2 separate regions of the Homo sapiens genome follow, and region 1 is linked to region 2. The links come from fine-mapping of genetic effects on gene expression. A gene starts in region 2. The other region holds a variant in brackets. All regions are shown on one strand. Distances are between the middles of the regions. Region 1 holds the start of LINC02704 (long intergenic non-protein coding RNA 2704). Region 2 holds the start of TSPAN18 (tetraspanin 18).

Region 1 (8,324 bases), 30 kb after region 2:
GGAAGAGAGAAGAGACACAGATAAGAAAGTAAAGATGCCAGATGAACTTATTGAGCACCTAGTGTATGCCAGGCACTGTTCTGGGTGCTGAAGAATTATCAGCTACCTCAGGTAGCAGGGGAAATGGATGTGAGTATGAAATTGTCGTTGTCATAAGTATCATAGAAAGAGAAGACCAGGGCTGTGGGAGGCCATGGGCCATGTTCCTTACACTGGATTTTGTGGGGGTGTTTGAGAAGGCTTCCCGGAGAATGTTGTTTCTAAGCTGGGACCTGAAGAATGAGTCAGGAAGGTGAAGAGGAAAGGTAGATGCAGTGGAAAGAAGGAGAAGAGGAAAGGTAGATGTGGTGGGCAGAAGGAACAGAGAATGGAAGGCTCAGAGGCAGGGAGGCAGGAGGAGTAGATGGATGGATGAGTGGGTGGGGGAACGAAGGTTTGGATGGATTCGGGGAGGACTGATCCAATGGGCAGGTGGGTCATTGCACAACCTGCTTGGCCAACTGCAGGGTCAGAGCAGCAGGCAGAGGGGAGGGTCCTGGGTCATGTCCTTGTCCTCTGTGTGGCCCTTTGATCATCTCCCAGGCAGACACTGATGACCCCTGTCCACCCCCTCAGCCACACAGCCCAGACCCTCTGGCCTCAGCCCCTTCTGATCCTCTCCTGGGGGTCCTGGAGATAGGGTTATTTGTAGATGATAACCTCCCTGCCCCACATCCCCTACCCCCCGACTCAGACACTTGCCTTTCTCTGGCCACTTCCTTCTATTCTTCTGCCCTGTGTGTGGAGGGGGAGGCAGCAGCCCTGGCTCCAGAGAAGCCTGCCCCTCCTTTCTTTCCTCCTTATCTCTCTCCTGGCCATGTTTCCTGCCCAAGGAGACAGAAATAAAAACGCAGGCCCTCCTGCAAGTGTTAGTGATTCTGGGAGCAGGGCTGTCAGGGTCTCCAGGGCAGGGGCCCCCATTCAGCCTGTTCCCATTGCCAGTGTGAGATGCCCAGATGTGGGGCACCCAGGCCTGGGATGCCCAGGCATGGAGTATCCAGGTATGTTGAATGCCCAGGCATGGGGCATCTACATGTGGGGTATCCAGGTGTAGGGGCTCCAGGTGTAGGGCTGGGGTGGAGATGATGGCGTATGGCATGGCTAAGAGCATGAGATTTGTCTGTGCCTGGCTCTGCATCCCTGGATGAGCCACAGTCTCCCTCAGTCTTGGTTTTCCCATCTGTGAAATAGGGCCCGTGGCAATGCACATCTCCCAGGGCTAGTGTGGGAATTAAGGGAGACGCTGGAAGTCACAACATGACTGAGGAGGTTTCACTTCTTTTATTAAGGCCAGACAGTTCCTTGAGGAGCGCTGTAGGGAGAGAAAGAGGGTGCTGGCCAGGCCTGCAGGACCTCTTGCAGGGCAGGGTGGGGGTGGGCTGGAGGGTGCATCTCCAACCTGCTGAGCTCAGGTCTGGCGCTCCCTCCCCTGGGCCTGGGGATTGCTGGGGAACACATGCCTCTGGCATCCTGCCTCTGGCTTCCAGGAAGGACTCGGCTCCAGGCTGCCTCCTCCTCCCTCCACTCCCACCCCTAACAGCCCCAGCATACACACACACACACACACACACACACACACACACACACAGCAGAGATGGAAGGATCTCCCTCCTACCATCCTCTTACAGAGAGTGGGGGAAAGGTCCACGGAGACCCCCAATCTCTACCCCTGGCTTGCACTAGGAGCCTGACATACCCCTTCCTAGCTAGGTGGCTCAGAGAGGACTAATGACCTTCTCGATTACTTTACAGAAGACCAGGAAGACTGGCATCAAAGGAGAGAGACTCAAATAGGGGGTTTCAGGCAGCAGGGGCATTTCTGAGTACTCACTGAGCATTTCTCCCTTGATGTCCTTCTCTCTCAATTTATTCATTCAACAAATGTTTTCAAGCAGGTACTATGTGCCACACACAGTGTGGCTACGGAAGAGACCAAAAATAGGACAGATCCTGGCTCTATTTTAGGAAACAGAAAACTAGCAGGTCAAGTTACCAATGATGGCTGTTGCAACAGGAATAAGTAGAGAGCTTGGATGGGAAATAAGGAGGTGACAGCTACTGTAGACAGGGAGGTCAGGCAGGCTCTCTCAAGAGGGGACATTTAGCAGGAGCCCCAGCCATACTTAAAGCCGAGGGTGACTGTTCCGGGCAGACGAAGTAGCAGTGGAGATGCAGTGTTGGGGAAAGAGTTCAGATTCAAAATGTCTTCACCCAGATCCCAGGTCTGCTTGAATTTGTTTCTCCTCCAGCCGTTACCTGTTTTCCAAGGTCATTCGAGGCTCCTCCTCACCCTGGACCCACAGCCTGTTTGTTGTGAGGCTGCTAATTCTGCCTCTGAAAGGGCTCTGCTGTCTTGCTCCCACCCACATCCCTGGCCTGGATTGTGGAGACGCACGCTCACTGGAGGCACACCCTTGCCTCACCCTCCCAGTTCACTCTCCTCCCTGCTCCCAGGGATTGTTCTAAAACCAACACCTTCATGGAGCTACTCCGCTCAAAAACCTCCCATGGCTCCCCATTGCCTACCCAGCCCAACCACACTGCTTGACCGTGCCTCTCTGGTTTCACAATCACAGCACAGCCTGCTTGTCCAGACCTATGTCCCCACCACCACCCCCTGCCTCTCACAGACCCTGAACCTTTCATGCTGCCTTGTCCTCCATGCCTTTGCTCATGCAGTTCCCCCGCCTGGAATGCCATTCCCTCGCTCCTCCACCATCTCTACCCCAGGCTTAGCTGTGGTGCTCTTGCTCTCTGCTCACTCCTCTGCTGCATATCCCAGCATGCCATATGTTCCTCTGTCTGAATCTGCGCCATGCTGTATAGACAGGGGGGTCTATGCATTGGCAACCCCCAGCTGGGATGCCTTTCTCATATTTGGGTCCCCAGTGCCACTGCAGGCCCAATGGACACGCGGGAAGGAAGTATAGCAGACTGCGTGGACTTAAGACAACTTCCGGTGAGGGTCCTGGCTCAGCCATTTCACCTCATCTGTAAAAAGGGGATAATGTTAGTACCTCTTATATCAGATTGTTGAGATGATTAAACGACACATTCAGTTGAGTGGCACTGCCCCCAGGGATGATTTGGAAATGAATGGGGGGCATTTTCGATTGTCACAAAGATAAGGTCAGGTGGGGAGTACCACTAAACTGAGCAGGTGGTGGGTCTGGGAAGGCAGGTGATTAGTTAAGAGGGAGATGGTCTTTGGGAGGCCGAGGTGGGTGGATCACCTGAGGTCAGGAGTTTGAGACCAGCCTGGCCAACATGGTGAAACCCCCGTCTCTACGAAAAACACAAAAATTAGCCTGGCATGTTGGCACGCACCTGTAGTCCCAGCTACTCAGGAGGCAGAGAATCGCTTGAACCCAGGAGGCAGATCATCGCTTGAACCCAGGAGGCGGAGGTTGCAGTGAGCTGAGATCGCACCACTGCACTCCAGTCTGGGTGAGTGAGACTGTCTCAAAAAAAAAAAAAAAAGTGGGATCATGCAGCCCAGTGAGGAACTGTCCCCACAAGCCACGTGACTTTCACACGCCCTGCTGGACATTCATGTAGGGAAGAAAATATGTTTATCATTATGTGAGTCTAGACTTTAGCTCTGCTTTACATGTAAATATAAAGCATTTTTCCACACTTTGAATATATACTGAATTTTCAAGGATGCAACTAAAGACAAAAACAAGAGAAGAGAACTCTATATTTAGTTTTATTCAGAACATGCCAAGAACTGCTCACAATTTTGGAAACGTGCATCTGACAGTGACATGATTAGAACGTTGGCTTCTCGGCTCAGTGCCCCACGTTCCTGTACATCTGTAGCTGTCCCCTTGATGGTGGTCCTGCGCAGGCTGCAAGCCCCTGACTGCTTCCTATGTCTTCCAGAGCAGCTGGGCCTGA[G/A]TGCTTACTTGTTCAAGTACAGTTTTTATTTTACGGGACATTCTTTATATTTCCTATTTATGTTACAGATAGGACATTGTATATGGTTATTTTTAAAAATCGTGCCTGTAGGTAGGTTACAACATCCATGGGGTTTATTTCAGAATATTAATGGGAATGTTATGCACCATCCACATAGAAAGAAGGTGTCAGGCATGTGAGGATCTGGAAGCAGGGTTGCAGAGTATTTATGAAGTGGTGAGAATTTAGACACTATTGCTAGGGACTTAACACACATTTGATGGGTGAGTGAATGAATGGATACAGGTTGGTGAAAGAAGCTCTCTAATGCCCCTTTTATTACCACTCACAGGTGAGCTAATGCTTGGGACTGCCTGGAACTATCTGCTCCCGGTTCTAGGACCTTCTATGAAGCGAGCTAAGCACAAGCCTTTCTTGGCTCCAGCAGCCAGTTGGCTTCTTGCTGGGTTGGGAAGCTGCTCAGGGCAACTTCATCCCTGCTTTGGAGGCCCACCTGGATATGAAGGCCCAGCCAGGATTAGATCCAGGCGGCTCTGGGATTTTTGCAACATTCGATAATAGGAGTGGAATTCCCGCCCAGGCCTGGTCAGGAGTGAGAGGAAGGGACAGTGTGATTCTAGGTGTCATATTCCTGCCTGCTGGGAATCAAAATCATCACATTTGCTTCAAGTTTATTTCATTTACATATTTTCTCGTTATAAGTAATACATGCTTGCTGCCCAAAGAACTCTAATTGGAGTAGGCGTGTGGACTTCTCTGTTCCATCTCCTGTTTCTTACTAACATAGAGAGCAAGTGCTTTCTTTGAACTGTTACTGATTTATAAATGACTTACCGTCATTTATTTGTTTTCAATTTGTTAAAAACTTTTCTCATGGAACGAACCTATGCATATGGTTAAAAAATAATAAAAAGTAAGTTTCTCTGTTCTCCTAAACACTCCAAGTTTGTTTTTCATTGTTATTTATTTAAAAAAAATTTTTAAGTGACAGGGTCTTGCCATGTTGTCCAGGCTGGACTTGAATTCCTGGGCTCAAGCAGTCCTCCTCCCACCTCAGCCTCCCAGGTAGCTGGGACCTCAGGCACGCATCACTGTGCCCAGCTTGTGTGTTTTTTTTTTTTTTTTTCACACTAAATCATAGAAAATACATTTCTGGCTGAGCTTGGTGGCTCACGCCTGTAGTCCCAGCATTTTGGGAGGCCGAGGCAGGAGGATTGCCTGAGCCCAGGAGTTTGAAACCTGCCTGGGCAACATCAAAAGACCTTGTCTCTAAAAAAAAAAAATACAAAAATTAGCCAGGCATGGTAGCACTCGCCTGTAGTCCCAGCTACTCGAGAGGCTGAGATGAGAGTATTGCTTGAGCCCAGGAGGTTGAGGCTGCAGTGAGCTATGATCATGCTACTACACTCCAACCTGGGTGACAGAGAGGGACCTTGTCTCAAAATCAATCAATCAATTAATTTAAAAAATACATTTCTGTTTCTTCATTTATCCACTCTAGGCACTGTCTACTAGTGACTCTCCATAAAAGGTGAGGAAATTAACAATCAGTCCCGAATGTTTGTTGACTATGTGATTTTATTTCATATTGGGAAGATTAACAACATTTACATTCTATTTTATTTCTATAACTATGATTGGTTGTCCAAAGTGACAGCTAATAACCAGCATTTTTGGTAACAGTGAATACTTACAAAGTCCTTAGCCATATCCTGGTGTTGTTCAGAGCACTTCACTCAGAGGCTAACTTGTTTAATCTTCACAACAACTCCAGGAGACAGCAACTGTTATTAACCCCATTATGTAGATGAGGAAACTGAGACATGGAAAAGTTAAGGAATTTGCTCAAGAAAGCTCAGCTTATACATGGCAGAGTGGGGACTGGAACCTCGGCCGGTCCCAGGGTCTGCGTTCTTAATCACCACATTGTACTACCTCTCTGGGACTATTTCAATATTACATTTTTCTGAAGCATGGCCGCACCCCTTAGATGACTTGAGCCTCTCTTCTTCCCGTGTTGCAGGTGGAGAAACATGGGGCTAAATGATGATCTTGAAAAGGGCCCTCACTCGTGAGCCTTCGCCATGTGCCAGTCACTATGCTGAGCACCTTGCAGGTGAGAACGTGATTAACCTCACGGTAAGCTCCCACGTGGGGCCCATTGCCATCCTCTTTTGCGGACGAGGTCACCGAGGGACACAGACTTTAAGTAATCAGAAGGGGAGAAGCCGGGTCTCACACCTGGGTTCATCTGGCTTCATGGAGCAGGCCCTGAATTAGGAGTCAGGCTATGAGCCATCACTCACTGTAGGCCCTGGGACAGGGAATCTAACCTGTCTGGGCTCTGGGTTCCCCAACGTAAGGGTTAAGCCAGTCCCACAGGGCCACCTGGCTCTAGGACTCTACGGCTCTGCTTGACCCCGCTTTGCTGGGTAAACACATGCCAGTCTCTCACTAGCCAGCCTTGGAAGCTTCAGCTCTGAGAGGGGGATAATAATGACCCTCCACATAAAACCATGGGAAGACTAAATGAGATGACCTGGGTCATGCCCTGAGGACATGATAATAATGAGGAGGAGGAGCAGGAGGAGTCAAACAGCAGGACCCTGTCCACCCCAGCCTGCTGCCCTGCCCTCTACGAGTCCCCCAGAGACAGCCTCCTTTCCCCACTCCTTCAGCTGAGGTGGGGCTGGAGATTCCAGCCTGTGGCTCCAGACCGTGGGAGGAAGTGAGAATGTCCTTTCTCATCAACTCTTGTTCTTCCAGGAGCTTCAGGTCCAGGCCTTGGGGGTCAGCAGGGCAAGCCTGAGCCCTGTGGTGCTGTGGGAAGACTTGGTTCAAGTGACACTGAGCCTGGGACAAAGTGCGGTTGATGGCTCTTGTTTTCCCTGGCCCTTCAGATTGCCTTTGGGAAACCACCCAACCCTCACTCCCCTCCACCCACGTGCATTGCATGGGGCTAATTCTACCCCAGGCCCTGACTCCAAGTATGATCACCTGATCCAGACCTGGCCAATCAGCCTGTTCTGTCCCCCAGGCCACAGTGATTTGTTTAGGGATGATCATGTGACCTACAGAAAGCTTCAGGATAGTGGCTTCCTTGGGTAGGGGAGGCTGATGGTCAGACAGGGAAGAAGCCCACAGACAGATGCAAGTGCTGGTTAATGTTCTGATTCTTGTGTTGGATGACCAGGTCTTGGGTGTTTATTTATATAAATAAACAGAGGAGAACCGTTTATGAACCTATGGCAAGAGGATGGCGTGAATAAGGGATCATGATTAATAGAATTCAGAGACAAAGGGAGAGAAAACAAACAAAAAACACCTCTGGAACTTGTTGGAGCTCTTGGAAAAGAAAAGCTGTGAGTGGATGTTCAAGAGGGTAACCTAGGGCCTCATGCATTGGGGCATTCAGAAGTTTCGTACTGGATCAAAAACAACGAATGAAGCCTGCAGTGCAGAGAAAACATTGTGATATGAGGGTAAGTAGGAAACACATCTAGACAGCAGCCCTGGCCCTAGGTCACACTGCAACACTGTAAGCATTATATCCCAGTGGGGACAAGGACTGAGGGGTCAGGGAGAACGAGGACAGTTAATTTACAGAGAAGCCCAGCTGGTGGGGGATTGTGATTTGGTTTCGTTTTCCATTAACGTGGTTTGTGCGGCGCAGGTATGCAAAGGCGGCCCCACGTGAGTGAAGCACGCACCGTGTGCACCACTCAGCATCGTCACACATCCTGACATCCTGACAGGAGTCCTGTGGGCCTTTTGTGATGCCCAATTTATAGACAAGGAAGTCAAGGCCTAGTGCAGCAGAACATGCTGCAGTAGGGCCGGGAATTGAACTCAGATCTGCCCGCCTCTCAGCCTTCCCCTGTGGGAAGCCCTCTCAGGTTGGAGGACTGTGAGGCAACTTCTTTTGCAGGCCCAGCACATGCTGTGGAGCTGGTGCAGACACCTGGTTTCTGCATCTTGGGATCTCACACCCTCAGGCTGGGGGAAGCAGGGGAGGAGGCTGGTAGGTTGTGGGGGAAAAGATTTTAACTCTTTTATATCCCCCCACCTCAGTCTCCACTCAGGCAACCCCATCCCAACGTCTGCCCAGTCCAGGTGAGAGCTTGAGACTTGGCACTGGCTCAGAACCAAGGGCAGACCCTGAACAGGGGCATCCGGGCAGAGCCCCTACCCCCCATGCACTCCCTGCCCTCCCCAGCTCCCAACTCGGGGCCCCTTCCCTAGCCCCCAGCCCAGGGCCTGCTGCAGCTCCCCACTCATCACCTGAAGTGGGATTGACTACCCCCACCCCAAAGAGGGCAGCACGTGCGGCAGCCCTGATGGGAGAAGCAGACGGGCGGCCTGAT
Region 2 (8,324 bases):
AGAGGCTGATCAGCTTAAACACATTATCTGCACATATGGTTTTCATACCATGGTGAAGGGTGGGAAACAAAGGGTGGAAGGGAAAGGACAGGCAAATGCTAGCTGATGAAATATCATCCCTCAACTGCCAGGAGCCAGGATATTGTCAGTGACGTCAAATTGGGCTTCTTGCCATGGGGACGGGGCTACCATGAGCCTAGTCACAACATTCAGGAGTCCCTCAATGAGGCAGAGAAAGGAAGAAAAGAACCAAAAAAGCAACTTATTCACCCTTACCTTCTACCCCAAAGACAGATTTTCTCTCTCTCTCTCTCTCTCTCACACACACACACACACACACACACACACACACACACAATCCAGGCCCCAGAAAACTAGAAAGGACCAAAGTTAATCCCTCCCATTTTACAATAATAGTAATAATGATAATCATGACAATGATGATGATAGTGAACACTTATTGAGCACTTACTATATGCCAGGCATTATGCTAAATGTTTTACTAGTTTTATCTCAAAGACTATCCACAACAATCTGATGGGGTATTACTAGTTCCATTTTACAAATCAGGAAATGGAGGCACCAGGGGTTGAATGGTCTAAGGTCACACAATTGATATGAAGTTATGATAAAGCTAACAGGCAAATCCAGGCAGTTTAACCACCACGCACTGCTGCCTCTAAAGAAATAGAGAAACCGAGGCTCAGAGAGAGGCTGTGACTCACACAAGGCCACATCGCTCCATCTGTAACAGTATCAGGGCTGGAACACCAGTCTCCTAATGCCTAGTTCAGCTACCTTTCTGCTCCATCCTGTTGCCTTTTGTACACACTTGCCCACCACCAGTGAACATGTTTTTGCTCATCTCCAAGTTGTTGAATTCACTAATTAAGCCAGCAGTCTTGGGTGCAGACCAGGGGCAAGAGCTGAATCTTAAGACAACAAGTACCCAGATGAAAGACCAGCCCTGCCAGCTGCAAACACAGGCTCACCATCTTACTCTCCCATTCTTTATAAAAAGTGTTTCAAAAGCCAAGTGCAGTGGCTCACGCCTGTAATCTCAGCACTTTGGGAGGCCGAGGCAGGTGAATCACGAGGTCAGGAGTTTGCGACCAGCCTGACCAACATGGTGAAACCCGTCTCTACTAAAAATTCAAAAAAAATTAGCCAGGTGTGGTGGCACACACCTGTAATCCCAGCTACTTGGGAGGCTGAGGCAGGAGAATCGCTTGAACTCGGGAGGCAGAGGTTGCAGTGAGCCAAGATCGCACCACTGCACTCCAGCCTGGGCGACAGAGCAAGACTGTCTCTCAAAAAAAAAAAAAAAAAGTGTTTCATGATCCACCCCCACTCCCTCAGATGGAGCACTAATGCAGGTCCAAGGTGCCAGCCCGGGTGGCAGGAGGAGCCCAAGCTGGTACATTTGCTCAATGGCATCAGGTGGTAGAAACGCCTGATCAATGGGCGTCATCTGCTCAGTGGGACCAGAGTGCTGGTTTCCAAGGCCCCCTCCCTGTGCTGCACCCCAGCTGAGCATGAACAAATGTTCCTGATTTTCCCTCTCAATGGCTGATGAAATAGACCAGAAAAGCAGCCCTCTGGAAAGGGAGAGGTCCCTAAAACCTGCACCCCAGGAACTGAAAGGGCTCTTCCCAAGAAGAGTGGGGAGCGAGCCTGCAGACTAACATGGGGCTCCCAGCAGGGACTGGTTACAGACATTCCCCTCTCTACCCAAAACTGCTGGGCACTTTGTCCTTCAGCTCTGATGGCAGGAGCTGGTTTCTGAAGCTGCTGCATTCACTCAACGCAGGATTTTGCTGTGTACAGGCGGGCAGAGAGAGGCAAGCCAGCCCGGAGAGGCACCTTCCACTGAATGGAAGGCAGAAGGAATGGAGCAGGGCTGCCCAGCCCCCTAAAAGGTTAGACTCTCCTGCTCTAAGTTGCAAGATAGCTCAGAATCTCCTCAGCCAACATATTCATTTTACAGACGGAGGAAGCAGGCTCAAGAGGGGAAATAACCTGCCCAAGGCCACACGGATGACTCAGAAGAGCTAGATTTCAAATCTGCTATTTTCCCTCTTCCTGGCACCCCCTCCCACACATCCTTGAATTAATCCTGTGTCCCTACCCAGCACCCTGCCCTCCAACACACCCCTCAGACCATTAAAATCTCATTTTTTAAAGGGCAGAGGGTTCCTTCCTGGACTCAGCCCAAGGTGTCCTAAACCCAACCCCAAGGTATCCTAAACCCAACTAACTTCGGCTTCTAGAAAGTGTCCTGGAGCTTTCAATGATGTGCTACCATTTCAGACTGGGGTTGGGTAAAAGCACCACATATACTGGCTGTTTGAATGGGTTTGGGGACAAGGGAGACAAGGAAACAGAGTGCCCAAGACTTGAAATGTTGCTAAATCAGAGATCTTGGAGTTTGCCTGGGAGAAGACTGAGCCCACACAAGATACTTTAAGCCCAAACACAGACTTTAGTAGCCCTTGGGGACCTTCAACTCCCTCTCCAATTCAGGAAAAGTGGGGTGGGGGTAGGGAGAAGAGGGGAGGGACAGAACACGGGAAACGCTGGCCTTCTAGGGGCCCCATGCTCCCAGGCAGGTTCCAAGGCAGGGCTGGTCCATGCAGGCTTCCCTCCACAGAAAAACAAGAGTCACTAAAAGCAAAACACAACAAAAAAAAACTTCTTTTGTTTTCCAGCCCCCTGGAATGTCTTAAAGACCTATCCAGACACAGCAGGCTTCTCCACCCTTTCCTTTCTCTCCTCTCTCCTCCTCCTCTTCTATTCAAAATAAAAATCATGCTGATCTGTCTTTATGGCAACTTTGTCCTGGAGCATTTCAGTAGCATCCAACAAAAACATGTGGCAGACTACATTGAACAGAGGAACCTCATCTCTTTCAGGGACCCCCATTTCCCCCACCTTTGTAAGGGACATTAAGGACATGGGAGCAGGAGGGGGGCTGCCCAAGGAGCACAGGTTACCAGCTAAGAGAAAGATGAAAACTTCTACCAACCACAATGAGGCCACGGCACAATCTATGATTTGCTCCTTTGCACTCACTTGGGGTGATGGGAGGAGGGAGGGAACTGGAGAGAAAGATGAGGCAATAGTCCCTCCAATGTCCCTTCAATGTTAGCCCCGCACATGACAAAGATGACAGTCCTCACAGATGCCAGCAGCCGTCGACTTCCCAAGGCACAGACACACAGACTCAACATACAGGGACCCTGAGGCCAGACAACTGGGACCCAGGGCAGATTTCCACCAATAATTGTGAAATGACCAGAAGAATGTGGCCTAGAGACCACAGACCCAGGGGATGAGGGTGGGGGCCAGGGCTCGTTGACTGCTGAGAAATTTAACACTTCTGCCTGGACTGCTGAAGTCTTTAAGGCCCCATCCCCCACCGCCCGCCCTGTGCCTCCCAGTTTACTTGTGCCCAGAGAGAGGATACCCCAAGACCCCCATCCTGCCTTCACCAGACAGGGATTCGACCAGATCCAGGAAACAAAGGTGCAACTTTTACAAAAAGGGTGCATGCATTTTGGGGTTTGGGTTTCTGCAACTCCAAAAACCGTCAAAAAGTTAATTCCCCAACCCACTCTCTCTGCACCAATTCGCAGTTGTAGTTTCTTACATCTTTTTCTGGGGGTAAATTTCTTACTCATCCATTTGCCCTGGCAGCCTTCCCGAGAAAAATCACATCCTGACTCCTAGCCTTTCCAGCCCACGGCGCAGTTATAACTGTGAACCTTTCGCCTCACTCTTGGTCCCGCTCCCCCGTCTGGCTAGTGTAGGGCGGGCTCCTCGGGGCGGGACCCCGCGTAAGTTGGGTGTCTGTGGTCCCTGCGTCCTGGATGTCGGCGCGGTTGCCTCGCAGGAGCCAGAACGCGCTTCCTGCTGGCGAGGGCCGGGGCAGTGCGCCCCCTGGCGGGAGCCCAGTCACCTCACTCCAGCAGGACCCGGAGCCGGCGCGATCCCACCCGAGCCGAGCACCGTCCCAACTGGCTCCCACTGCCCCCTAAATCTGGACGTGCCCGAGCCTCCCACCCACCCAGCACTCCATGGAGTCTCCACTTCCCCAAACCGCACACACCTAAGGAATAAGGGGGGTCCTGGAGGAACGAGTGGCGCCTCCGCCCCGCCCCGCCCCGCTGCCAGGGACCCCAAAGGCAGCCCGCCCTCCATGCAGCTGCCGGGCCCCACAGCCCTCCCGGCCCCGATCGCCGCTCCCAGTCCCTGGTCCCTCACTGTCTTACCGGGTGGCGTGGCGAGCAGCCCCTTTCCGGGCGCAGCCCTGGCCGAAACCCCGAACCTTGTAACCACACCTGCCACCCCGCGCCGTTCTCCAGAAGCCCCCACTCCTCCACCCGGAGCACTGGGAGCCCACCGGCTCTGCACCTGTCCTGGGCGCAGCCCCCGGCCCTCAGCGGACTCCGGGCAGGCACGGGGTGGAGACCGTCCCCGGCCCCCCAGCCCCCGCGTGCTAGTTTGAGTGGAACTTGGTTGCCGGGCTTCCGTCCTGGGATCCCTACTCCACCCCAATTCCCCGCCGCGTCCAGCAGCACCCCCGGGGCGGCGCGCGGGGGGGTCCCCAGGTCCCCGGGGGCGCGGCGGCGGCGTGCGGAGGGCACGGAGGTGCGGAGCCCCATACCTTCCAGCGGCGGCTGCCGGACCCCGCGCCAAATCCCGCCGGCGGCCGGGGGGAAACTTTCCTGGTCGGAGGGGCGCGCTCGCAACTTGCCCGGCGCCGGCTGCCTTCCCGGCGGTGGCGGCGCGTCCGGGGACCCGCAGCGCGAGGCGGCGGCGCTCGCTCGGGGCTCGGGGCCGGGACCGGGGCCGGGGCCGGGGCCGGGGCCGGGGCCGGGGCTGGGGCCGGGGCCGGGGCTGGGGCTCGGGCGGCCTCGCGCGGCTCCGCGGTGGATCGCTCGGCGCTACGTCCGCCCCGCAGCCTGGAGCCCCGCGACGCCGGCGGCAGCTGCACGCCCGCCAGCCCGCCGGCCCCACCTCCGCCGCCGTCCGTCCCTCCCCTCCCCCGCCCTCCCTCCCCCTCCCCAAACCTCCGCCCCTCCCGGCTCCAGACGCCGTTGCTGCCGAGAAGCGCGTCTCCTCTGCGGGCTGCCCCTCGCCTCCCGCCAGCCTCCGCCTCCTCCTCCAACCCCGCGTCCAGGCCTTGTCTGGGGGTCCCTGGGCCCACCCTCTGCCCATCTCCCCTTCCTCCGCCTCCGACCACCTCCCGCTCTGCTCGCGGGCCCTCTCTGCGTCTGAATTCGGAAGATCGTTGCGGGAGTGGGGAGAGGGGCATGCTGGACCCGAAGTGTTTATTCCAGGGGAACTTTCAGCTGACCCCGGGGCCCAAACGCAGGGGTTGGGGTGAGATCCTCGGTCCTGATCGGGCTCCTGGGCTTCCCGCTGCCGGGGGAAGTACCTGTTGAAAGCCTGGGGAACTCACCCTCCTCTGACTTGCAGATAAGAAAGGGGACTTCCTGCATGGAGGGGCCTGACCCCAGGTCAGATGCAAATGACTTGATTGCAAGGGGCCAGATCTGTGTCTCCGGCCTCAGGGCTGAGGTTCTTGCGGGGCTGGGGAGCTTATCTTTTCTTCTCTGTACTGCTGCCACAGCAGCACTGGCTCCCAACCCCTGACATGACTTGCCTGAGACTTTTAACCTCTGAGCCTCCTCTAAACAACTACCCGACCCTGCCCCAGACAAAACGGACAAGCAAGCAGATCAAAACTGACAGCCCAAGTGAAAGTACTGATGACAGGGGCTCGGGTCGCCCACTCCTCTTCCCTTGGCAACTCTGTTTTGAGTCCCAGCTTGAAGCTTCCACACCCCATCCCCGTGGGCCCTAGGCATTCAAGCACACATCAGCTCTGCAGGAGGCCCCTTGGCCAGCTGATTCTCACTAAGGGGTGACTGATAGGAAGGAGTTGACCCTACTCCTGTCTTGTATATGGATGTTGGTAGTCAGGCCACTGGGCAGAGTTTGGGGGGAGGGGGATCTTCTTGTTTTGTTTTTGTTTTGTTTTTGAGACAAGGTCTCGCTCTGCTGACCAGGCTGGACAAGCCTGGTCAACAAGCACAGCTCACTGTAGCCCGACCTCCTGCACGGCTTACTGTAGGCTCGACCTCCTGGGCTCAAGCAATCCAATCCTTCCAACTCAGCCCCCTCGAGTAGCTGGGACCAGAGGCATGTGCCATCATGCCTGGCTAATGTTTTCTGTTGTTTTTGGTGTGTGTGTGTGTGTGTGTGTGTGTGTGTGTGTGTGTGTGCGTGTGTGTTTTGTAGAGCTGGACTCTTACCATGTTGCCCAGGCTGGTCTCCAATTCCTGGCCTCAAGTGATCCTCCCACCTCAGTCTCCCAAAGTGCTGAGATGACAGACGTAGCCACTGCACCCAGCCACCAGCCAGAGTTTTGAGAGGCAGGAAGTGGCTGCCTTTCCTTGCCCACATTCCAGGAAATGGATTCGTCCCTGTAAGGGGATGTCCCTGTAAGGACTTCAGGGATGTCTGGTCCTTTAAAGAACTTCACCGCGTCACCGGGACTCTTAGAGTAGGCACGTGGCTGGAAGAAAAATCCCTGGATCCGCGGTTTCAAAGGGACCCAGAGTGAGCAAAGCTTCACCCAAGGGGAGGAAGTCCCTAATGGTGGAATTTCTATAAGAGGAGGACAAGGAGAAGGGCTCCACATTCACCCTTCAGCTGCCAAAACAGAATGGAGGGTGGAGGCTGAACACCCCACAGGCCCTGCACTTGTGGAATGCTGCTGGGAGAGGCCCCGTGTGAGCCTCCTTGGACACCAGGCGCCACATACATTTAAAGAGGAAAAACGGGAAGCCCACAGCAAGGGTGCTGGAGCTGGGGAAGTGGAGACCAGAGACAGGCAGAGAGAGGGATAGAGTCTCTAAGGGTCTGGGGCTTGGCAGAACGGGGCAGGCGCAGGGGAAGAGAGTGCAGACCCGCTGCACAACTTAGACAACCAGCTCGGTCCCTGACTCCAGTTCCAAGTCAGTTTCCTGGACCTCAGCCTCTCTCCAGCCTCCATGGAGGACCTGGCCCTATCTGTGCATTAGCTAAGGACATCTGCTGAATAGGCTTCTCTAAATCAACTCTTATTTTTTCATTCTTTTTTAATTTACTTAAGTGAGCTTGTTTTTAAAAAGATATGTTAAATTATTACCATAAATGGAAAGCCAGCATCACATTACTATAAATAGAAGGTAACCATCAAAATAAATACAATGAAAATAAGTGTTATTAAATTCTAACAATGTATCTTTAACCACAATAATAATAATACAGTCTAACAAGATACTGCTGCCTGAGGAGGTGTTGAAGCTGAGGTCCCACTTTCTCTTTGAAAGGAAGGTTACCAAAGGCTAGAAAGGTGTTAAAGACACATTAGCAACAAACTCTTCATCAAGAGCATTGATGAAAAGAGAATTGGGAAGGGACCCCCTCCACTCCCACTCCTCACCAGGTCAATTAGGGTATTGGAGGCCCTTGGATTACCTCCAATGACCTTAATTTCCTTGAACATCTCGAATGTCCTCTCAATTGGGAAACATAATTCTATGTATTGGTGCAAAAGTAATTGTGGGCTGGGTGCAGTGGCTCACACCTGTAATCCCAACACTTTGGGAGGCCTAGGTGGGTGGATCACGAGGTCAGGAGATTGAAACCCTCCTGGCCAACATGGTGAAACCCCGTCTCTACTAAAAATACAAAAATTAGCTGGGCATGGCAGCACGTGCCTGTAATCCTAGCTATTCGGGAGGCTGAGGCAGGAGAATTGCTTGAACCCGAGAGGCAGAGGTTGCAGTGAGCCGACATTGCGCCACTGAACTCCAGCCTGGCGACAGAGCTAGACTCTGTCTCAAAAAAAAAAAAAGAAAAAAGTAATTGTGGATCTCATCATTGAATGTAATGGCGAGAACCACAATTACTTTTGTACCAACCTTATATTAGGCCAAAAAAGTACTTTATTTTTTTAAAGTTAGGCGCCCGAAAAATTTAGTCCTGGACAAGATAAGGCTGACTCGGGTTACAGGAAGACCGCACCTCCCTCTCACAAGGTAATCTTGAGGAAATCCCTCCCTTCTCTGGCCTCGGTCCTTACATCTGTAAAATGGAGGCTTGGGCAAATGGCCCATAGAATCCCTTTGGCTGTTTGATGAAAGCAAGTAAGACACCAAGATTGTGGCTTATCAGGAAACTTAGAGGGTGAAGTCTCCACCAAGGAGAGGGGCTAAAGAGGGGAGAAGCTGGGAAGGAACGAAAGAGCAGGTGGTGGGGCTGTGGATGGA

What was found.
Region 1: its variant is fine-mapped to the expression of TSPAN18 in whole blood (TOPMed, PIP above 0.99).

The regions. Positions count from the first base shown.
Region 1 is chr11:44,693,973-44,702,296 of GRCh38, reverse strand. LINC02704 (long intergenic non-protein coding RNA 2704) reads left to right here and starts at 938. Exons shown (of 3, transcript XR_931234.3): 1 at 938-1,040; 2 at 5,984-6,076. The variant G/A (reference allele first, on the strand shown) is at 3,940.
Region 2 is chr11:44,723,630-44,731,953 of GRCh38, reverse strand. It overlaps TSPAN18 (tetraspanin 18), which reads right to left and starts at 4,992. Exons shown (of 10, transcript NM_130783.5): 1 at 4,667-4,992. The region is part of intron 2 of TSPAN18-AS1 (TSPAN18 antisense RNA 1); the gene reads left to right. RefSeq lists enhancers at 2,487-2,987, 2,988-3,490, 5,206-5,375, 4,742-5,603, 5,604-6,464 and silencers at 3,860-4,029, 4,866-5,015.